Regions from separate parts of the Homo sapiens genome. Here regions 2 and 3 are each linked to region 1. Evidence: fine-mapped expression QTL. A gene starts in region 1. Each other region holds a variant in brackets. All regions are shown on one strand. Distances are from middle to middle.

The links.
Region 2: its variant is fine-mapped to the expression of CWF19L1 in whole blood (INTERVAL, PIP above 0.99).
Region 3: its variant is fine-mapped to the expression of CWF19L1 in whole blood (TOPMed, PIP above 0.99).

What each region holds. Positions count from the first base shown.
Region 1 is chr10:100,263,530-100,271,712 of GRCh38, reverse strand. CWF19L1 (CWF19 like cell cycle control factor 1) reads left to right here and starts at 4,075. Exons shown (of 14, transcript NM_018294.6): 1 at 4,075-4,142. The coding sequence starts at 4,120. RefSeq lists an enhancer at 6,095-6,344.
Region 2 is chr10:100,218,924-100,227,106 of GRCh38, reverse strand. CHUK (component of inhibitor of nuclear factor kappa B kinase complex) reads left to right here. Exons shown (of 21, transcript NM_001278.5): 2 at 1,090-1,184; 3 at 4,127-4,241; 4 at 4,926-4,995; 5 at 6,431-6,519; 6 at 7,748-7,837; 7 at 7,975-8,099. Among named protein-coding and RNA genes, the nearest start is that of CHUK, 6.6 kb to the left of the region's middle. The variant C/T (reference allele first, on the strand shown) is at 3,451.
Region 3 is chr10:100,166,961-100,175,143 of GRCh38, reverse strand. ERLIN1 (ER lipid raft associated 1) reads left to right here. Exons shown (of 11, transcript NM_006459.4): 6 at 863-936; 7 at 7,738-7,796. Among named protein-coding and RNA genes, the nearest start is that of ERLIN1, 15 kb to the left of the region's middle. The variant G/T (reference allele first, on the strand shown) is at 3,252.

The sequences.
Region 1 (8,183 bases):
TTTCTCCAGTATTTTCTTCTGGTAGCTTCATAGTTTCATGTGTTAGGTTTAAGTCTTTATCCATTTTGATGCGATTTTTGTATATGGTGAGAGATAGAGTTGAGTTTCATTCTTCAGTATAGGGCTATCCAGTTCTCCAAGAATCATTTATTGAAGAGACTGTCCTTTCCTCATTGAATGTTCTTGGCACCTTTGTACTTTTGGTATTGACATAAAATGAGTTGGCTGTAAATGCATGGATTTATATATGTTCCATTGGTCTATGTGTCTATTTTTATGTCAGTACCATACTGATTGGGTTACCATAGCTTTGTAGTAGATTTTGAGGTTGGGCAGTATGATGCCTTCAGCTTTGTGCTTTTTGCTCAGGATTGCTTTGGCTCTTTGGGGTCTTTTGTGGTTCCATATAGATTTTAGGATTGTTTTTTCTATTTCTATTTCTGTAGAGCAGCAGTCCCTAATCTTTTTGGCACCAGGGACCGCTTTTATGGAAGACAATTTTTCCGTGGACGCGGGGGGATTTTTTTTTTTAATGGTATGAACCATATTTATTGAAAACATTATTTCTGGCCTTTCTCAAATTGAAGACTGCAAAAAATAAAAGCAGTGCTTTATTGAGTTGTCATTAACCTTGAGAGCAGTGGCGCTGCCTCTCCACGCTCTGGGGACGGTGGAAACCGTGGCTGGTGCGTGCCACATCTATCACACCTCGGTCTACAAAACAGTCCTGACGTCAAATAAAACTATTGTGGCCGGGCGCGGTGGCTCACGTCTGTAATCCCAGCACTTTGGGATGCCGAGGCGGGCGGATCACGAGGTCAAGGAAATCGAGACCATCCTGGCTAACACGGTGAAAACTCGTCTCTACTAAAAATACAAAAACAAAATTAGCCAGGCATGGTGGCGGGTGCCTGTAGTCCCAGCTACTCTGGAGGCTGAGGCAGGAGAATGGCGTGAACCCGGGAGGCGGAGCTTGCAGTGAGCGTAGATCGCGCCACTGCACTGCAGCCTGGGCGACAGAGCGAGACTCAGTCTCAAACAAAAACAAAAACAAAACAAAACAAAACAAAAAAAACAAACGCTCGTACATGACATTTACATTAGAAAAAGAGAGCTGAAAGTAGGGATGGGGGGATGGTTTGGGGATGAAACTGTTCCACCTCAGATCATCAGGCATCAGATTCTTGTAAGGTACGCAGCGCCGTAGAACCCTCGCATGTGCAGTTCACAATAGGGTTCCAGCCTCTGTAAGAATCTGATGCCACCACTAATCTGATAGGAAGTGAGCTCAGGCGGTTATTCTCACTTGCCCACCGCTCGCCTCCTGCTGTGCGTCCTGGTTTCTGATGGGTACTGGTCCATAGCCCGGGGGTTGGGGATCCTTGCTCTATCTAGAGAATGCCATTTGTATTTTGATGGGGATTGGACTGAATCTGTAAATTGCTTTAGGTAGTGTTGTCTTTTTTCTTTCTTTCTTTTTTTTTTTTTTGAGACGGAGTCTCGCTCTGTTGCCCAGGCTAGAGGCTGGAGTGCAGTGGCTGGATCTCCGCTCACTGCAAGCTCTGCCTCGCGGGTTCATGCCATTCTGCTGCCTCAGCCTTCCGAGTACCTGGGACTACAGGCGCCCGCTACCACGCCTGGCTAATTTTTTTGTATTTTTAGGAGAGACGGGGTTTCACCGTGTTAGCCAGGAAGGTCTCGATCTCCTGACCTCGTGATCTGCCCGCCTAATTCTTCTAATCCATAAGCGTGGAATATCTTTCCTTTTTGTGTGTGTGTCCTCTTTCATCAGTATTGTATAGTTTTCCTTGTATAGATCTTTCATTTCTTTAGTTAAATTGATTCCTACGTAGTTTATATTCTTTGTAGCTGTTGTAAATGAGATTGCTTTTTTGATTTCTTTTTCAGATTGTTTACTGTTGGTGCATATAAATGCTACTGATTTTTGTATGTTGATTTGGTATCCTGAAACTTTTACTGAATTCGTTTATTATTTCTAACAGTCTTTTTCGTGGAGTCTTTTGATTTTTCAATACGATGAGTTTTTATGTCTTACTTTTGTATCCTCTTCTGGGAATTATTACCTGCTCATGTTTGGCAAACTTCTACTCTTCTTCAAGATTCAGTCTTGAGTGCTACTCCTGGGCAGTGCTGTATTATCCAAAGAGTAGGAAAAAATGCATGCTTATGTGCCAGCAAAGCAGAGCCACCAGTTATGAGGCAAGAAACAAACAAAAAAGAAGGCTTGTAGGCTGTGGGAAAAGCCAGAACTTTGTAGTTTTGTTTGGTTATTGAGACAGGGCTTGCTGTGTCACCCAGGCTGGAGTGCAGTGGCAAGGTAATAGCTCGCTGAAGCCTCCATCTCCTGGGCTCAAGTGATCTCCCCACCTCAGCCTCTGGAGTACCTGGGAGTACAGGCATACGGCCACCATGCCCAGCTAACTTTTTTTTTTTTCTTTTTAAATTTGTAGTAGAGACGAGGTCTGGCTATGTTGCCCAGGTTGGCCTTGAACTCCTGTTCTCAAGTGAACCTCCCGCCTCAGCCTCCCAAAGTGCTGGGATTACAGGCATGAGCCACTGTGCCTGGCCTGTAGTTCTTCTTTAATCTTATGTTTTATTAATTTTGAATTATTTAGATGCCCTTGATGAGTCTTCCTTTCCCCGCAGTCGTCAGGAACTCTCTCTTGTTTCCATTTCCTTACACACTTGTTTCCTACCACTTGGCCTGAACCCTTCAAAAAAGTCAATATTACAAAAACTAAAACCAAATAGGTAGGAGGGCTTTTGTAGATTAAAATAGAGACAGAACCAAATGCAAGTGTGAAACTTGATTGCATCTGAATCAAAACAAGCCCCAAATATAAAATCAGTTTGTAGGGAAATATGGAGAACTTTAAATATGGATGTATATTAGGTAATATTATTGAATAATTAATGTTAATTTTCTTAGCTGTGTTAATAGTATTACGGTTATGTAGGAGGATATCCTAATCTTAGGAGATAAATGGAGATGTATTCCTGTTGTCCGCACTTTATTTTATTTTATTTTTTGACACGGAGTCTCGCTCTGTCGCCCAGGCTGGAGTGAAGTGGCGCGATCTCGGCTCACTGCAACTTCCTCCTCCTGGGTTCAAGCGATTCCCCTGCCTCAGCCTCCCGAGTAACTGGGACTGCAGGTGCGTGCCACCACGCCCGGCTAATTTTTTGTATTTTTAGTAGAGAGGGGGTTTCACCGTGTTAGCCAGGATGGTCTGGATCTCCCAAAGTGCTGGGATTACAGGCGTGAGCCACTGCGCCCGGCCTGTACTTTACTTTCAAATGATTGAGTGAGAATGGAAGGGCTTGGGCACTTTGAGAGAAAGAGAACACAAGCAAATTTGCCAACATGCTGAGACTTACTGAATCAAGGTAATAGCCATTATTCTTTTAACTTTTTTTTTTTTAATTTGAGACGGAGTTTCGCTCTTGTTGTCCAGGCTGGAGTGCAATGGCGCGATCTTGACTCACTGCAACCCCCGCCTCCCTGGTTGAAGCAATTCTCCACCATGCCCGGCTAATTTTTGTATTTTTAGAAGAGACGGGGTTTCACCATGTTGCCCAGGCTGGTCTTGAACGCCCGACCTCAAGTGATCCGCCCGCCTCAGCCTTCCAAAGTGCTGGGATTATAGGCGTGAGCGTCCACGCCCGGCCTCTTAACTTTTTGATAGGTTAAAAACTTACAAAAAACGTGGATAGAGGGGGTCTGTCTTGCCCACTAGACCGATATGGTTAGGTTAGGTTAGGTTAGGTTAGGTTAGGTTAGAACCCGACATTGTGCTCTGTACTTCCTAGCCATTCATTCGCTTCAAGTGCTCTGAAATTTAATTTAAAAAATCATAGTTGGAATCCTTTCGGTCACTTTCTCTTTCTCCCTTCGTTCCTCCCTTTCCCTCTTGATTCTTCCTTGAGGCGCAAACACCTGAGAGAGGCTTCTGTCCCTCGGCGGTCTCCGTAAGTAAGTGAACCGTTATTGGCTGGAGGGCGCTGACGTCTGATTGTTGCGCGGTCGCATTTTTCCGGGGAGCGCGGATTCGCATTCCCAATTTTAGGTGGCAGTCGCAACCCATACTATTCGGACAGATGGCACAGAAACCGCTGCGCCTGTGAGTGACCGTGAATGGAAGCCTCTCTCCCTGTGTCTCTTTCGTGTGTGTAGGTGACGACACGGGCGGGAGTCTTTCCCATGACGGGAAGGGAGAAGGAAAAGGCGGAGAGACACGGGGCTGCTGGGGAGCTTAGGTGATGTCTTTGCCTGGCCGGGGCTGACCTCTTTTCCTGGCCCTTTTCGCTTCTGAGGGGGTTTCTCTTGGCGACGCTCGTTCGGAGAGGCGGAAGCTCCCAGAGTTAGGCCTCCTCCATCTTAGGGGGCAGTCCTGGCCTCTGACACATCCTTTCCCCTTCGTTTCTCCTGACCCCATTTATTTACTCGCCAAATAGCCATTGGGCCCACTGATGGGCCCTGGGCAGTGGTGGACAGAGTAGATAGGGACCCTTCCCTGGGGCATTTTTTTTTTTTTTTTTTTTTTGCGAGGAGGAGGGGTGGGGGTGGTGGTGAAGAGAGGGCTTCATGCAGCAAGTATTTATTGAAGAACTGCAGTGTGCCGGACGCTGTGCTAGGTGTTGCAACAGATGGAGTTCCTGCTTTAATGGAGCGTAGAGTCTAGAGGAACAGGTACTAAAGAATCCAGATAATGGGCCGGGCGCGGTGGCTGAGGCAGGAGAATCGCTTGAACCCGGGAGGCGGAGGTTGCTGTGAGCCGAGATCGCGCCACTGCACTCCAGCCTGGGCGACAGAACGAGACTCTCAAAACAAAACAAAACAAAACAAAACAAACAAAAAACAATACAAATAATGGCCGGGCGCGGTGGCTCACGCCTGTAATCCTAGCACTTTGGGAGGCTGAGGCGGGCGGATCACTTGCGGTCAGGAGTTCGAGACCAGCCTGGCCAACGTGGTGACACCCCGTCTCTACTAATACAAAAAAAAAAAATTAGCCAGGCGTGGTGGCGCGTGCCTGTAATCCCAGCTACTTGGGAGGCTGAGGCAGGAGAATCGCTTGAACCCGGAGGCGGAGGTTGCACAGTGAGCCGACACTGCACCTCTGCACTCCAGCCTAGGTAACAGAGTGAGACTCCGTCTAAAAAAAAAGGAATTCAGATAAATGTAAAGTTACCATAGTGATAGGGCCAGGCGCAGTGGCTCACGCCTATAATCCCAGCGACTCCGGAGGCCAAGGCAAGAGAATCACTTGAGTCCAGGAATTCAAGACCAGCCTGGGCAATATAGCAAGGCCCCGTTTCTACAAAAAATACAGAAAAAAAAAAAAATTAGCCGGGCGTGGTGGTCCCAGCTAATTGGGAGGCTGAAGCAGGTGGACCACCTGAGCCTGGGGAGGTCGATGCTGCAGTGAGCTGTGATCGTGCTGCTGATCTCCAGGCTGGGTGACAGATTGAAACCCTGTCTCAAAAAAAAAAAAAAAAAAATTGCAATAGTGGTAACTTTTGGGAAGAAAATATTCGTGAATCTGGGAGAGTGCATAAGAGGGGTATTTGGCTTAATGATAGGAGTCAAGAAGGCTTCCCGAGAATGTTAGGATTGAGCCTTGGGAAATAAGAGTAATCCATTGCTTAACAGCAGGGTTATGTTCTGAGAAATGAGTTGGTAGGCGATTTCGTCATTGTGCGAACATCTTTGAGTGTACTTCCAGAGACCTAGATGGTATGGCTTCCTGTACACCTAGGCTAAATGGTATAGCTGTACGTCAAGTTACTGTACTGAATACTGTAGGCAATTGTAACACAATGGTAAGCATTTTTGTATTTAAATATAGAAAGGGTACAGTGAAAACACCTGGCCGGGTGTGGTGGCTTATGCCTGTAATCCCAACACTTTGGGAGGCCGAGGTGGGTGGATCACCTGAGGTCAGAAGTTCAAGACCAGCCTGGCCAACATGGTGAAACCCTGTGTCTACTAAACATACAAAAATTAGCCGGGTGTGGTAGCGGGCGCCTGTAATCCCAGCTACTCAAGAGGTTGAGGCAGGAGAATGGCTTGAGCCTGGGAGGCAGAGGTTGCAGTGAGCCGAGATCGCACCACTGCACTCCAGCCTGGGCGACAGAGCGAGACTGTCTCAAAAAAAAAAAAAAAGAAAAAGAAAAAAAGAAAATACTGTATACAGGAAAAAAAAAAAGGGCACAACCTGTGTAGGACACTTATCATGAATGGAGTTTGCAGAACTGAAAGTTTCTCTGAGTGAGTTAGTAAGAGGTGAGTGAATGTATTACTTTACAGTATTGTAGACTTTATGAATACTGTACACTTCACCTATATTAAATTTATTAAAATATTATTTTCAACAGTAAACCTTAGTTTACTGTAACTTTTACTTTATAAACTTTAAGTTTTTTTACACTTTTTGACTCTTGTTATAACACAGCTAAGACATAAAACACATTGTACAGCTGTACAAAAATATTTTCTTTATATCCTTATTCTACAAGCTTTTTTCTATTACTTTTTTTTTCTTTTTACCTTTTAAACTTTTTTTTTTTTTGGAGACAGGGTCTCACTGTCGCCCAGGCTGGAGTGCAATTGTGCAATCACGGCTCACTGCAACCTCAACCTCCTGGGCTCAAGTGATTCTCCCACTTCAGCCTCCTGAGTAGCTGGGACTACAGGCGGAAGCTACCACACCTGGCTAATTTCTGTATTTTTTGTAGAGAGGGGGTTTTGCTATGTTACCCAGGCTGGTCTTGAACTCCTGGGCTCAAGTTACCCTCCTGCCTCAGCCTCCCAAAGTGCTGGGATTACAGACGTGAGCCACTGTGCCTGGCTTTAAACTTGTTTTGTTGCAAACTAAGACACACACACGAGTCTAGGCCTACACAGGGTCAGGATCATCAGTATCACTGCTGTTCACCTCCATATCTTGTCCCACTGGAAGGGCTTCAGTAGTAATAACATGCATGAAGCTGTCATCTCCTATGATAACAGTGCCCTCTGGAATACTTCCTGAAGGACCTGCCTGAGGCTTTTTTACAGTCAACTTTTTTTTTTTTTTTTTGAATACGTAGGAGTGTACTCTAAACAGTAAAGAGCATACCATACTGAATATATTTTTTTTTTTTTGAGATGGAGTCTTGCTCTGTTGCCCAGGCTGGAGTGCAGTGCCGCGATCTCAGCTCACTGCAAGCTCTGCCTCGTGGGTTCATGCTATTCTCCCGCCTCAGCCTCCTGAGTAGCTGGGACTACAGGCGCCCGCCACCACGCCCGGCTAATTTTTTGTATTTTTAGTAGAGATGAGGTTTCACTGTGTTAACCAGGATGGTCTCGAGCTCCTGACCTTGTGATCCGCTCGCCTTGGCCTCCCAAAGTGCTGGGATTACAGGCGTAAGCCACCGCACCTGGCCATAGCATGCTAAATATTATACATAAACCAGTAACATAGTTGTTTATTATCATTATCAAATATTGTATACTGTACATAACTGTATGTGCTACACTTTTTATAACCACCAGCCCAGTAGGTTTATACCAGCATTACCACAAACAAATGAGTAATATATTGCACTATGATGTTACAAATGGCTAGACATCACTAGGCGATAGGAATTTTTTAGTTCCATTATAATCTTATGGGACCACCATTACATATGTGGTCCCTTGTTGACCGAAACATTGTTATGTGGCACGTAACTGTATTCTTGTCTTTAACCTAAAAAGGTTATTGAAATGCTTAAGAACGCTTTGGCATGATCAAATTTTCATTTTGGAAAGCAGTTCTGTCTGCAATGTGGAGAACAAATCAGAGCCAAAGTAGAGAACAGCTGGGATTAGGTAGAGTGATGACAGAGGAATAGTTTAGGGATTCAGGGTTTATTAAGGAAGTAAAATCAACAAGGCTTGTGATGGTTTAATTGTGAGTGAAAAGGAGCTGGCCTTGTTGGGTCATAGATTTCTATCTTTATTCAGTGGGATAGAGAACAGTGGAAAAGGGCCCAGATGAGGAGATGAGGCACCTGGTGATGTATAAACTGGACAGTGGATCTCCCAGAGACAATGGTAATTCCGTGTGACAACTGCTGTGATGGAAGAAATGCAGGCTCCTATGGGAACACTAGAAATTGGTAACTGATAGGTACTA
Region 2 (8,183 bases), 45 kb after region 1:
CAGTGTTGTTCATGGTTGTGCCTGATTCTCATTTCCATGGTGGTAAAGGCCTGCATGGGACATAGATATAACTGGTCACCTGCTCATAACAAAAGGAAGATTGAAGGGAGTGAGAACTGTGGGTAGGCTAGCATGCAGTCTATCCTAGTTTCCTTCTTCTCTATGCACCAGGTATCATCTTATCTCTAGCTTCTTTTTTCCTCTCACCCTCCAATTCACACTACCCTATCCAAGCTATGTCTTGCTTCCCCACCTATAATATATTTTTTCTGTCCTGGCCCCTGGGCTCTTCTCTCTGTATTCATACACAGCCTTTATTACAACTCTGGTTTGTGTCAGAGATTACATATGTTGGAAATTCTTTTGAACTCTCCTTGTGATATCAGAAACATAGTGTAGCCTGTTTAGCCCTGACTGCTATTTCTGAGCTGCATTATTAATGTTGCCAGAATATGATGGGGTCTGGCTATTTCCTGTAATATGCATCAGAATGGGTTTAATTTCAGTCAGAATTGGCTAAATTACTAGTCACAGGCAAGAGATGTTAGGTTCATTATGTAGCTATGGAAGCAGAAGTACACTCATTGGTAGGATTTTTTTTCTTCATGTCATTTGAAATGCATACATTAGGATTGGAGTTTTTTGCTTTAGGCTTGGTTATATTAAAACTTTCTCTTGCTGTTTGGAGTCCAGGAAGCCCTGAATTACCTTCTTCATTTTAGTTATGCTAGAAGCTGGGGCACATATTAGTTGTCTTGATTAAGCTCTGAAAGGGGTTTGCTGAGGAGACAGGATCTTTTTTTTTCTAACATTATATATGAGAGAGAGTTCTGAAAAGACCTGTTATAAAATCAGTTTCAGGCACTTTTCCCTTGTATGCTGTTGTGTGTTTGAAGGTCAGTTTTAAAGCATTGGTGTAATAGTCTCATGGTTTATCTTTTTAAAAAGCATTGCCTCAAGAGAGCTGTGGATAAATATATTTAATTAGTAAAGCTAAAAAGTTTTGTTGTCTTAAGTTATTTCTTTGGTAGCAAATAAATCTTCACAAGAACCTAATTTTTTTTTTCTGTTGATTTTCTATTTTGGCAGGAACTTGATCTCAAAATAGCAATTAAGTCTTGTCGCCTAGAGCTAAGTACCAAAAACAGAGAACGATGGTGCCATGAAATCCAGATTATGAAGAAGTAAGTGTATTCCTTGACTTACATTTCCCTGGTTCTACAGCCCAACCAGATGTCATCATGGGGAAAGAGGCCAGGAATCCACTCTTCTCAGGATCTTTTTGGGAACATATATTTTTTTCTCTCATTAAATATATTCTATTTCAAATAATAATATCACATTAAGATTAAGAAGGTTTAGTTAAAATCAGCTAGGACACTTACACACTGTTGGTGGGAATGTAAAATTGTGCAACTGTTACGGAAAACAGTACGGTGATTCCTAAAAAATTAAAAATAGAATTACCATATGATCCAGCAATTCCATTTCTGGGTATATACAAAAATGAATTGAAAGCAGGGACTTAAAGAGTAATTTGTACACTCATATTCATAACATTATTATTCACAATAGCTGAAAGGTAAAAGCAACCCAGTATCTACCAGCAGAGACATGTATAAACAAAATGTGGTATATTCATGAAACGGAATATCATGCAGCCTTAAAAAGGAATGAAACTCTGACACATGCCACAGCATGGATGAATCTTGTGGACATTATGCTAAATGAAATAAGCCAGTCACAAAAAGACAAATACTGTGTCATTCCACTTATGTGTGGTACCTAGAGTAGTCAAACTCACAGTGAAAGAAAGTAGAATGGTGTTTGCCAGAGGGTGAAGGGACCAGCAAATAGAGAATAATTTTTAATAGGTGCGGAGTTTCAGCTTTGCAGAATTAAACAGTTTTGTGCAGTATAGTGATAGTAGCAAAACATTGTGAAAGTATTTGATGCCAGGCTGGGCATGTTGGCTCACACTGTAATTCCAACACTTTGAGAGGCTGAGGTGGGTGGATTGCTTGAGCTCAGGAGTTCGAGACCAGCCTGGGCAACATGGCAAAACCCCATCTCTACAAAAAATATAAAAACTAGCTATGTGTGGTGGTGCATGCCCGTAGTCCCAGTTACTTGGGAGGCTGAGGTGGGAAGATTGCTTGAGCCCAGGAGGTCAAGGCTACAGTGAGCTGAGATCATACCACTGTACTCCAGCCTGGGTGACAAGAGCAAGACCCTGTCTGAAAAAAAAGGAAAGCATCTTGATGCCACTAAACTGTACACTTAAAAATGGTTAAGGTGGTAAATTTTATGCTATGTGTGTTTTACCACAATCAAAAAACTATTTCATTTCAGTTAACAAAAGTCAGCTAGGGCCGGGCGTGGTGGCTCACACCTATAATCCCAGCACTTTGGGAGGCCAAGGCGGATGGATTACCTGAGGTCAGGAGTTTGAGACCAGCCCGGTCAACATGGCAAAACCCCATCTCTACTAAAAATACAAAAATTAGCCAGGTGTGGTGGCGGGTGCCTGTAATCCCAGCTACTTGGGAGGCCGAGGGAGGAGAATTGCTTGAACCCGGGAGGCGGAGGTTGCGGTAAGCTGAGATCATACCACTGCACTCCAGCCTGGGCGACTCCGTCTCTAAATAAATAAATAAATAATAAAAAATAAATTACCCCAACATTTAGTGGCTTAAAATAGCAAACATTTAGTATCTTATAGTTTCTGTGACTTAGGAATTTGGGAGTGGCTTAGCTGGGTGATTCTAGCTTAGAGTCTTTCCTGAGACATCTCAGGATATTGGTCGGAGCTGCAGTAATCCAAAGGCTTGACTGGGGCTGGAGTATCTGCTTCCATGCTCACTTATATGAATGTTGGCCAAAAGCATCAGTTCTTCGCCATGTGGGCCTCTTCATGGGGAAGCTTGAATGTTTTCATGACATGGAAGCTAGCTTTCCCCAGAAAGATCTTTTCCTCAGAAAGAGTGAGTGATCTGAGAGAGAGAGAGAGAGAGAGAGAGTGAACGAGCGAGCAAGATGAAAACCGACGTATCTTTTATGATCTTTACTTGGAAGTGAGACTCCATCCTTTTCCACCACATTCTGTTTGTTACAGTGAGTCACTAAGTACAGCCTACATTCAAGGGGAGGAGAGTTAAGCTCTTAAAAAGAGAAGTAGACATATTTTAAAACTTCCACAGGTAGTGTGCTAAGTACTTTACAGATCATTCTTCCAGTTATCACAGCAATCTTATATTTAGGTATTATTTTGCAAATGAGGAAGTTGAAGCTTATAGAATCACATAGCTGGTGGTTGGTAAAGTGTGGATTTGAAATAAATACTTTCTGACTCTAATATCTGTGCTTAATTCCATTTTGATTCTCAAACTTGGTTATGTGGCAGAATCACCAGGAAAGCTTAATAGTATAAATTATCAGGTCCTACATGTA[C/T]ATGGAAATTCTGTTTGCTTCTTTTTCTTTTTTTCTTTTTTTTTTTAAAAGAGATGTGGTCTTGCTATGTTACCCAGGCTTGACTTGAACTCCTGGGCTCAAGCAGTCCTCCCACCTCAGCCTCTGGAGTAGCTGGGACTATAGGCATGCGCCACCACACCCGGCTAATTTTTAATTTTTTGTAGAGATGAGGTCTCACTGTGTTACCCATGCTGATCTCGAACTCCTGGCCTCAAGCAATCCTCCCACCTCAGCCTCCCAAATTGTTGGGATTACAGTTACAACTACACCCAGCCTAGAACGCCAGATTTGACTTACTCACTGTGTGATCTTGTTACTTAGCCAATTTGTGCTTCAATTTTCTCCTGTGTGGTGAAAGTATTAATAAATCTACCTATAATAGGATTATTGTGACAAGTAACTGAGTTAATATATTTAAAATGTTTACTGCTTGGCACTTAGAAATGTAATAGTAGTAATAGTGATGGTATTTTTATGTGTGTTTTCTTTTAAAAAATTACTAATTTTTAATTATACAAATCAGAAATTAGAATATTATAAATAATACTGATCTTTCCCCCTCTGTTCATCCACCCACAATTAAGTAGCATTTCAAATCCAGTCCCTTTTTATTGGAAATAATTTTTTTTATTGTAATGTTTTTCTTTCTTATTAGGTTGAACCATGCCAATGTTGTAAAGGCCTGTGATGTTCCTGAAGAATTGAATATTTTGATTCATGATGTGCCTCTTCTAGCAATGGAATACTGTTCTGGAGGAGATCTCCGAAAGGTAGTGTGGATGTTTTGAGATGAGAGAGAGTAAATCACAAACTTTAGCAATGTTTGAATCATGTTAAATATAATAAACTAGAATAAGAATCGGAAAAACTATGGTCTGCTTCCTGTTTTGTAAATAAAGTTTTATTGGAACACAGCCACATTCATTTCTTTACACATTGTCTATGGCTGCTTTCTTATGGCTGCAGAAGTGAGTAGTTTTAACAGAGACTATGTGACTTGCAAAACCTAAAGTATTTACCATATGGTTCCTTACAGAAAATGTTGACTCCTGATTTAGAAAATGCATTTTTGTTGTTGCTGTTTGATGGGACTATAGCAATGGTGTTAGATGAAAATTTCAGTGGTTAAGGTGCTTATAAAAAGTTGTTTTCTGTATTGCAATCTTTTTTTTCTACCTAATTTTAAATGTGCCCATATGACCATTTTTATATATATCCATGAGATTTGTCAGCCTTTTCCAGTTTCAAATGCTTTTTGCCTCTTTTTACTTTTATGAGCCTTATCATGAAATTTACATGCCCTCAGTATGGATTTGGTAATTTTATTCCCTTGTATTTTATTATGACTTATTTTCTCATTTGAATATTCTTTTAGAGTATAGTAATTAATGTGTGGTCACTATTGCAGCCCAGCAATTTGCAGAACAGATTTTTAGATTTCTTTCTTTTTTTAGCTGCTCAACAAACCAGAAAATTGTTGTGGACTTAAAGAAAGCCAGATACTTTCTTTACTAAGTGATATAGGTACGTATCAGTATTAAAATACCATTGTAATGTAATGTCCCTTTGGCCCATAAAAGATCTTTTTGGGAATTCAGGAGAATTGTTGATACACTATACAAAGTCTATAGAATTTCAACATCTATAAGAAGTTATAAAAATCTATTACTATTGATGCTAAATTAAAACTAGGATATTTTGGCTAGGTGCGGTGGCTCACGCCTGTAATCCCAGCACTTTGGGAGGCCAAGGTAGGCGGATCACAAGGTCAGGAGTTCAAGACCAGCCTGGCCAACATAGTGAAACCCCATCTCTACTAAAAATACAAAAATTAGCTGGGCACAATGCCGCATGCCTGTAGTCCCAGCTACTCGGGAGGCTGAGGCAGGAGAATCGCTTGAACCCAGGAGATAGAGGTTGCAGTGAGCCGAGATTGCACCACTGCACTCCAGCTTGGACAACAGAGTGAGACTTTGTCACACACACACAAAAAGAAACTAGGATATTTTATTATTTATTTGTGGCTAAGAGTCCTTTTTTTGTCTAATAGATGTTCCAATAGCTGACAAAAAAATCATGTGAAATGACCTTACTCAATTTCTCTCCCCCCCTACCATTGACATAGTAATTTTGTTTACAGTGGAATTACATCTCCTTGAGGGATGGGTCCTCAAGTCAACTCTTTTTTGTTTGTTTGTTTTGAGACGGAGTCTAGCTCTGTTGCCCAGGCTGGAGTGCAGTGGTGCGATCTCAGCTTACTGTAACCTCTGCCTCCCAGGTTCAAGCGATTCTCCTGCCTCAGCCTCCCGAGTAGCTGGGATTACAGGTGCCCGCCATCACACCTGGCTAATTTTTGTATTTTTAACAGAGACGGGGTTTCACTGTGTTGGCCAGGCTGGTCTCAAACTCCTGACCTCGTGATCTGCCCGCCTCGGCCTCCCAAAGTGCTGGGATTACAAGCGTGAGCCACCGCACCCAGCCAAGTCAACTCTTCAGGGTGAAAAATCTCTGCTTAATCAGAATGACTCCAGAAAAATTCCTAAAATAACCAGTACCTAACCTTTTGGAGGAACCTCAAAAACCAAAAATTTGTTTCCCCATAGATTTTGGTTTTGCCTCTTTTCCAAGGTCATGAGGGCTAAAGTCCAATTGAAATGAGTGATTTAGGTGGGAGAAAGAGGCTTATAAGAGTTTCAGGGATTTTCCCAATTGCTTGTTGCATTTCTATTTGGTGTTAATTCTAATGAGTTAAATGAACATATAGTATAATTTTGTAGTATTTGTTTAATGTTACTTTTTTTTCTGTGAAGAAAACCTGGACACTGTAGTATTAGTTGTGTAGTTACGATGATCCATATAAACTTGAGCATCAGAGTAGATTTGTACAAAATGTGAGGTGAATTTTTCTTTTAACTCAATGATTTCTGTTACTTTAAAGTATATTTTAAACTTTATTTAGGGTCTGGGATTCGATATTTGCATGAAAACAAAATTATACATCGAGATCTAAAACCTGAAAACATAGTTCTTCAGGATGTTGGTGGAAAGGTAGGTGAAACCTGAAGTAATGTTTCATGCCTATTGAATATAGTCTCTCTGATATAGTTAGTCCTTGAGCTTTGGTGTCTTTGCTGTATGCCCATAACAGTCTTACTTTTTCCATTTCAGACCTCACCACACTGAACTGTAGTTTTGTGTTTAGTTTTTTTGTCCCTTCTGCTAAACAGTGGTTCCATCAGAGAAGGAACAGCACCTGCTTTTTTTTTCTTTTTCTTTTTTTTCATTTTTCATACTTAACCCAGCTCCTAGACTTCACCTGTCTTGTTCAAGTCTGTTTTTCCATCATAGTATCTAGCAAAGATACAGGCTGTGAATACATAATATGTTAACACTTATTATTTTATTCTTATGAAGCACATCCAAAACACATACATGCACATCCTGGGTCCACTTTAAGAAAAAAAAGAAAGTATATATATTTTTAAAACTTATTTTCCTTCCCCCAATTTAAATGAGTCATCTGGAGAAGAACCAGAAATTGTGAATTGACTCTTAAAATGTTCATTTCATTGGTAACTTAAGCAGTTTTCTTGTTTCCAGCATCCAAATTTCATTCCAATAAAGACTTAAAGGCCAAGAGTCTGAACCTTGTGTTGAGTTGTGTGTGCCGTCTCTTTAGTTAGTGAAAATAGTTGTTGGCCTCTTGGAGGTGTTGGAACCTTGGTGATGCCTCTTCTCTTAGGAACCTTTCACGTATGCTTGGCACCAAATATCTCTGCTTTTTTTTTTTTTAATCCAAAGACTTCAGGACATTCCTGAAGTTAGATCTAAGTATTTACTCACATTTAATCTACTATAAGGAGGTATGATGCTTCTTCAAGTTTGGAAGTCACCCTTGCCTTTACTTTCCAGTTTAATGGATTGAGCTTATTTTGAATATAGTAAAATAAAAATTAATAGCCCACCTGTATTCAATTTTTACCATGTACCAAGCACTGTGTTACCTTCTTTACTTTCGTTATTTCATTGGATCCTAATAACAATTCTGTGAAGCAGGGACTGTTAGTCATCCAATTAGATTACTGAGAGAGGTTAAATAACTTGGTAGATCACATGCCTAGTTAAGTGGTGGCACTCAGACTTGAAATATTTTTGTGTTATTACAGAGCCCAAGGTCCTCACCACTACCCTGTCTACAGCCTCGTAAGGATATTGTTGTCTTTCCTTTTTAAATTTCTCTACCATTTAATACTTAATCTGTCTTATTATTTTGCAGATAATACATAAAATAATTGATCTGGGATATGCCAAAGATGTTGATCAAGGAAGTCTGTGTACATCTTTTGTGGGAACACTGCAGTATCTGGTGAGACCTGTTTTGTTTCTTTGAATTTAAGTGTGTATAGGATTCTCTTATTTCTGAAGATCATGAATATAGTAGGTCAAAAATAAAGTAGCTTTTCCCATACAGTGTTGGTGTTTAAAGCATTTTCTCTTTTGAAGGCCCCAGAGCTCTTTGAGAATAAGCCTTACACAGCCACTGTTGATTATTGGAGCTTTGGGACCATGGTATTTGAATGTATTGCTGGATATAGGCCTTTTTTGCATCATCTGCAGCCATTTACCTGGTAAGAAATGGATGAGAACTTGGGCATGCTTAATGGGAATGGAAATTTTTTCATTTGTCTTTTTTTTTCTTTCTTTAATTGTTT
Region 3 (8,183 bases), 97 kb after region 1:
ACAACTTACTTTTCATTTATGATAGTGGAAGTTCTGACCAGGGAATGAGTTGTTGCTGTTGGTAGCTCACTTTTCCCTCCTGAAATTTTTAGTGAATTTCTAAGATGAAGGAATAAGCAAGAGTAATCAATTTAAAATCTACCAATTGAGTCCTCTTTGGTGATTGTCAACCACTGAAGTGGCATGTGAGGAAACTGATGGGTCCTGCTTTGTCTCACCACCAGTCATTTAAATAGCGAAAGTACCATTGAGGTGAATAGAAAGTGCATAGTTACAAGCCCAAGTGTTCATGCTGTGTATATTTCAAATACTTTTCTATGAGCTTCTCTCTCTGTCTCTCTCTCTCTCTCTCTTTAAATCCAAAATAACAGTGAGGCTGAGATCCATGGAAATGAAGTTTAGTTATTTGGGAATTTGAGTAAAGATTTACTGAACATAGAAATTTGTTTTTCTTTGAGAATGAGGATACATATTGAGTAAGAGCCCTGAATTAAGATACTAGAGATCCAGATTCTCCATTTATTAGATCAACATATTTTACCCAGTAGTTGTTTATCCAGTAAATAAGTCTAATAAGTTACCCAGTAAAAAAGCTTATCCATAGTTAAGTAATACATTTAGTGGGTAAACTTATTGGATAAACAGACTATCTGCTTGTCATCTTCGTTCCTTAATTTCTTTATTAGATAATTCCTTGCAATTTTTTTCCCACACAAAAGGGAAGAAAAGGCAGTTTAAGCTCTGTAAAAGAATAGTACTGTGGAAACTTTAGGTCTAATAATGATTAGTTTTGTTTCATTATGAATACAATGTAAAAAAAATTGACTATCATGAGATCTGTTGTTCTTGGCTTAAAAAACAGATCAAATAGATGAAAACCTGAAGCAAGCTCTGCAGAAAGACTTAAACCTCATGGCCCCAGGTCTCACTATACAGGTAAGTTCTTTTCCTAGGGAAGTTCTCTGGGGATTTTGAGAGCTTTGAGTTTGTTCCTCCTTTCATTGGATTGTTTTATTCAGCAATTATTTGAGATGCTATGGTGATTTATAGAATACCTTTCTCAATTTGACTTTAGATCTCTGCCAAAATAAAATACTCTTGTAGCTTACTATGGGTGACATTTGTGAACTCCTAGAGGGAACTGATAAGCTGAGGCTCTTACAAGGAAGTAAAATTCATATTTCTGCCATGTATGAAGCATTAAGATACAGTAATGGTTATAAATCAGTGTAAGCATAATCCCTGCCCTCAGTAAGATTATGAAAAGGGAGTTCAAGTGTAAAATTTGAACAATCCTGGACAAAATAGTTATCACAAAGTATTAATTGACAGATGAATCTATTGAATGATTATTGCTGTAAGAGTAAGAGAACATTGGAAGACAGTGTGTCTAGGAGAGGGCTGTGATTGAGTTGAGATTTTAAGTAGGTTTGGAAAAATTAATTGGATTTAAATGGGGGAAGAATGAGAAAGGTATTTCAAGTGGGAGGGACAGCCCTAGTAAAAACAAGGTAGCAGGTGAATTTAGTGGTAGTGGTGATGGTGACGTTGGGAAATAGAATGGTGAGAGGTTTTACCCCTGCTTTTTTTTGGGTCACTGTGTTTTCCAGATTGTGGGTTGTAAAATCAACTTTAGTGAGTCATGAACAGCATTTTAAATAAAATGGAATAGAATAGGAAAAGAAATGGTATGTAATAAGTTTAAATATTCTGTGACACTTGTGTTTCACAGTGTGGCGGGGTAGGTGTTTATATTGGACGTCAGTGCAAAATGTGTTTCTTACTGTGTCCACTGTCAGTAACATTCGAAAGCCACTGCTCTGGATCCAGATGACCTAAGAAGTTATATTGAGGCTTCTCTAGTGTCCTTTCTCAGGAGCTCTAGGAGACCAGTTGATTGTTGATTGTTGTGATGAACATTACTGCAACTAAAGCTTATCACATGTCTCTCAATTCTTTACACTCAGCACCACTGCTACTGAGAGTGTGCGCTCACTGTGATTGTATGTGTTCGTGCTTCTCAAAAACAAGACTGAAAGATAGGTGGGGTTTTCCTCATGGCCTCATTCATGCAATGTCATTATCTCAGGCGCTTGAGGGTGAGCCACCAGAGTTAAGGGGTCGTTTGAAATGTCCAGAGGTAACTTTGTAAAATCCTCTGAGTTGTTCAAGTCAGTTGTAGCTGGAGTAGCTTTTTAGTTTTAAAGATAGTGAATGTGAAGGTCAGCTCTTAGATTCTGCCCAGGGTGTTACTCAGAGATCTAGCTCATTCAACTGTTGTTTAGAATTCCTTGCCTTATATTACTTAGCCATTTTTCTGTTCCCAGTTTTTTGCTATTAAACAATAGTGTAATGAACATTCATGACACATGTTCTTGTATGTACAAATTATCTTTCAAACTGACTGTACAAATGTACATTCTTAACAGCAATATGTGCAAATAATTGTGACCCATGAACTCACCAACATTGGAAGCAATCAGACATACTGATTGTTACCATATGGATGGGTGGGCAATTATATCTCCCTTTGATTTGCATTCCTTTGGTTGTTAATGAGGTTGAACATCTTTTGATACATTTATTGGTCATTTATACTGTCTTCTGCTGATTGCCTATTCATATCTTTTGCCCATTTTTCTGTTGGATTGTTTTCTTTCTTACTGATTTGTTCTGTATAAATTTGGAATTTTTATACACACACGTTATTTATGTTGTAGAAAAAAGTTAGATACTAGGAAAATGATGAAGAATAAAATGAAATTCACCAGTAATCTTATTATGCAGGGATAACATCATTTGTTATATCTTTCTCGACTATTCTTAATGTATATGAACAAATGTTTGTAGATATAAATGCATACATGCTCAACTAAAGCAGAATCATACCATACTTGCTTTTTTCACTAACATTGTCTATGAACATCTTTCCAAAACAAAAATATAGGTTTGGTAAATCATTACTTTTAATGGTTATATTTAGTGAATCTCTATGGTTTCAAATTTTTTACTACTGTATGCATGTTGGAATGACCAAGCTTATATATTCTGTACATCTTTTTAAATCCCTCTCTTACAATAAATTCTTGAAGTGGGATTGATGATCAAAGTGTATGCCCTGTTTGGGGGCTTATTGATACATACTACCGAATCACCTTTTAGAAAAATTTTAGCAGCTCCCCCCCTCATTAGCAGTGTTGGTAAGCTGTAGTTCTTACACATTTGATTGCATGATTGTACCCAAATAATTA[G/T]CAGATGCAAGCTTTCCCTTTCTCTCTTAATCCTTTTGGAGAAAATTAGTCTGTTATTTTGTGTTAATTATTGAAGTTGAATACCCTAGGTTATTAGCTGTTTTTATTTCATTTATAAATTGTTGGTTTTGCTCATTTTTGTAGTTAATGGTTTTTCTAACTGATTTTAATAAGCTATTTTTGGCTGGGCATAGCGGCTCACATCTGTAATCCCACCACTTTAGGAGGCTGAGGTGGAAAGCTCCCTTGAGCCCAGGAGTTTGAGGTCAGCTTGGACAACATAGTGAGACCCCTTCTCCACAAAAAATTTTTTTAAAAAATTAGGTAGGTGTGGTGGCATGTGCCTGTAGTCCCAGCTACTTGGGAGGCTGAGGTGGGAGGATGACTTGAACACAGCAGGTTGAGGCTGCAGTGAACTGTGTTCATGCTGTACTCTTGTCTGGGCAACAGAGCAAAACCCTGTCTATAAATAAATAAATAAATAGCATTTGTATATAGAGAACTTGTTTTTGAACCTTACCCTTTGAGAGGGGTAGAATTCGTTTTTAAAAATAAACTTTTTCATATGTTAGTTATTGTAGCTCTTTTTTATATTTATAGGAAACATTTTCTTCAAATTTTTTCTTTGTCATTTAACTTTGTTTTTTCCTTGCTGATAACTTTGAAGTGTTCATGTTTTACATAGTAATTTCAGTGATTTTGTCTTTATGGTGTGTTGCTGAGCTGGCATGTTTTAAGAGCTTTTCACCACCTTAAAAGTATAGCAATTAAAATTAGAAATTATAAAAATTGTATCTGCTTTTACAGTTGTATTCTTAGATTTAAATCTTTTAATTCATCTGCAACCCATTTTGATCTCAGTTGCAAGGTAGGCCTTCAGCTCCATCCCCTCAACCCCAAATTGGGTAACAGCGGTAATTACTGAATAGTTTATTTTTCCATCTTCCCCCTTCTTTGAAATAGTTTTTATGTTACATACTGCATTCCATTATATACTAGAGTCTTTTTCTGAACTTAGTTCTGTTCCATTGATCTTCCCATTCCTACTCTTTCATTAGTTATTGAGTCCTTGGTCTTTTCTCATCAAATCGAATTTTCTCCTGTGTTTTTCATCTTGTCAGTTAATGGTAACTCTTTCCCCTCAAGCCAATCTAGAAGTGTAGGAGGCATCTTTGACAATCGCCTCACCCTCAGCATCTAATCAGTCCCTATGTCCTGCAGATTCCACCACCAAAATCCATGTATTAATAAAACTGACCACACCTCCATCTTCACTGTCATCTCAAGCCAAGCTACCAACTCTAACCTTGACATGTGCAGTAGCAGTAGCCGCCTGTCTTCTTTCCCCACTTTCACTTTTACCTTTGTCTACTTCATTTTCTGCACAACAGCCAGAAGGATCTTTTGAATTTACTTATATTTATTTGCTGTTTTTATAAAAAGTTATTGATTGAAAAAATGTAGTTTTGTTATACGTTCTTAAAGTGGTAGAGATCTCCATTGTTTTAGGGTTTAAAAAAATTTTAAAATAATTTTTATATTTTGCAATAACTTAAGCATACCCTGAGAAGAGAAGAGCTCCTTTGCTTTGGTTGCTTTTGTCTTGTTATAAAATTTTTTTTACAATAGTTGGAATGCATTTTAAGAATTTCAAGGCTGTTTTTGAGCTTTGTTATTTTTAACACATTACCATATGGTTGTGATAATTCAACTTTTTATTTTAAAATCTGGCAAGAGACATCATCTTTTAAAAAATAATGGCCTTTGCTGTTTCTGCCAGCTTAATCTTCCAGATGAGTTTTCATTATCGATATTTTCAAGCTATATCAGGCACCTAAGTGGTCATATACATGTTGTTTTGTTTTGTTTTGTTTTGAGACAGGGTCTCCCTCTGTTGCCCAGGCTGGAGTGCAGTGGCATGATCATAGGTCACTGCAGCCTTGAACTCCTGGGCTCAAGTGATTCTCCTGCCTTAGCCTCCCAAGTAGCTAGGAGTACAGGTACACACCCCCACATCTGGCTAATTTTTTTATTTTTTGTAGAGATGGGCCTTTGCCGTGTTGCCCAGGCTGGTCTCAAACTCCTGGCCTCATGCAATCCTCCAATATAAGTTAAAAATAGAAACATAGTTTATGGCTTTACTTTATCATATCAGCCTTTTTGGTTTTTAGAATTTCTGATTTAGGGGAGAAACTCATATCCTAAGTTAAATTAATACCAATGGATTTAATGAATTTTAATGCTGTTCAATATGTAGTCTTTTTTTTTTTTAATCATTGAGGAATGTGATTGATTCTTGGTAGATTTATCTTATATCTACAACTTGAATTCACTGCCTTCTAGTAATTTTTGGGTTACTATTTTTACAGTCACTATTATATTTTTTTCCTTTCCATATATTTATATACCATTTTTCTTCTTGAAAAACTACTCTGGCAAATTAGAATGATGAAAATGGTCATCTTTGATTTTTTTTTTCCTATGTTATTTAAGGGAGTGACTATATTATAGACTGGCTTTTGATATATAATATATGCTTAAAACCCAGGGGTCAGTTTCAATACATATATTCCTTTCATTAGCCATTTTTTTCCTCCATTCACTCTATGTATGTGAGTGGGATGGGGGCATTATTTTATTATTTGAGGTTAAGAGCAGAGGTTTAATAGGCAAAAGAAACAGAAAGGAGAATAGCTCTCTCTCCTGTGAGGGAGAGGGGTGCCTGAGTGGGACTTCCCACTTTTACTTTTAAAATCTCTTTTGATGCAACTTACTCATGGTATCTGTACAGTAAGTGTTTATGTTTTCACATATTTGAAAATCTGTGAGATTTCCCAAGATTGGCAAGCACAATGTAGTATGTTCTTCAGCCTCATTCAGCAAAATAGGAGTCTTCAAAAGACAGTCCTGGCCGAGTGTGGTGGCTCACGCCTGTAATCCCAGCACTTTGGGAGGCCGAGGTGGTTGGATCACCTGAGTTCAGGAGTTCGAGACCAGCTTGACCAACACAGTGAAACCCTGTCTCTACTAAAAAACAATACAAAAATTAGTCGGGCTTGGTGGCGCATGCCTGTAATCCCAGCAACTAAGGAGGCTGAGGCAGAAGAATCGCTTGAACCTGGGAGGCGGAGGTTGCAGTGAACTGAGATTGCACCACCGCACTCCAGCCTGGGTAACAAGAGCAAAACTCCATCTCAAAAAAAAAAAAAAAAGTCCTACTTTACGCTTCTTTTAATAAGGCTAAAAAGATATGTGGCCAGTCTCTTAATTAAATGCAGTATGACAGTGCTTCCTTGAATCATATTAATCCATATTGGAAGTAATCTTATGTCTGCTAGTCACATGGTGAAATCTGACATCTCACAAAATCTGGTCCTGAATTTTTATTTGTCTTCTGCATGTCTCCACTGAGTTGTGAGGCCTCACATGTGTCACTGCCAGTGTGTTGTGAGTTTTTTCCACACAGCCTTCAGCTGCTTATTCCATTCCACTGTAATCCTTATATTTAGTTATGATTGTCCTCAAAATTACCTACAAATTTGACTCATCTATTTCATATAGGAAATGCTATATCGCTTAAAAGTTTTAAAAGCCTTTAAAGAAGACTAAGTGCTTAAAGGCTTTGTTATTCTTAAAAGGTTAGCCAGTTTTCAGAAGGAAAACTTCTTCAGACCAGCAAAGTGTTTTTTGTGTGTGTTTGCAGTATAGGTGGGGCGGCGGGGTATCGTATGTTTAGTAAAATCAAAAGCTTTTGAGAGATCAAGTCCTTGATGTAGAAAAGTCAGCCTTCAAAAAACAGTACTGTCCAGGTAGATAATCTTAATTGTGTCAAAGAACACTATGATTAGGGAAACAAAGTGTCTGGTAAACAGCCTCTACAAAGACAGACTTTGTTCTAAGTGAGAGTTAAGGAAGAAAGAATATAAGCTTTTAATTGATATTTGTTTTCCTTCAGCCAGTGGGCTGTTTACTTACAGCAAATACCAAGTGATTGCAGGGGTTGGAAGTGATAGATTAATTTACTCACTACTCACTGTATTAAATTGTATACACCAACCTGGGTTTTTTTGTTTGTTTTTGTATTTGACTAATTGTTTCTGACTTTACAATTTCAGTCTTGGAACTTTGCCTTCCCGGCTTCTTTGGTTTACAGGGTTGAAAAAGAAAGCAAAAGTATCTAACGACCTTTGTAAAACATCTTTTAAGTGAGAACCTTTTTCATAAGGCAGTTGTTTCCTCAGTGGGTAGATGGTTTTTCCTGTAATCTGGCATTGTGTAAGGAAATAAGAAGCAGCTTGTCTTTGATTCTTGGTGTGATGGCATGAAAAGTAAATGTTCTGGTGGGATCCCCAAACGTGTTAGTAGGCCGCTATATTATAGCTGTTGTTTATTAGATTAGTATCATTTGAGGGGCTTTTCTGTAGAAGATTTAATTTGAAGATTTATCTTTCAAATATACTTTGGCTTTTTCACTTTTATTTTTTAGGCTGTGCGTGTTACAAAACCCAAAATCCCAGAAGCCATAAGAAGAAATTTTGAGTTAATGTGAGTAATATGCATGGGATCCCAATATTTCTGTTTAGGGCTGTCTGCATATTAATATTCCAGTCTAGAGGAAACATGTGAGACAATACACTCTGGGGTGGAGTATGTGTCTTATCTTCTTTACTCTTACTCTAGTAATATTGCCTATTCTTGTGTCTTAATTCCCACTAGACTCTTACTAGTGTTCTCTTTATGTATGGACATTTCAGGAGCAGTTTCAGTGGCTAAAGATGCAGTTTGCTGTAAAACTATTGCTGGAAGCTTAAGGAGCTATAATTTTATATGAATAGTACCTTGAATTAAATATTTAATAGAGGAAAGAGTCCTGAAGCCGTTAGGGTTGAAGAGAGTGCTCATATTTTGTTTCTGTGTTGTAATGGTAGGAAT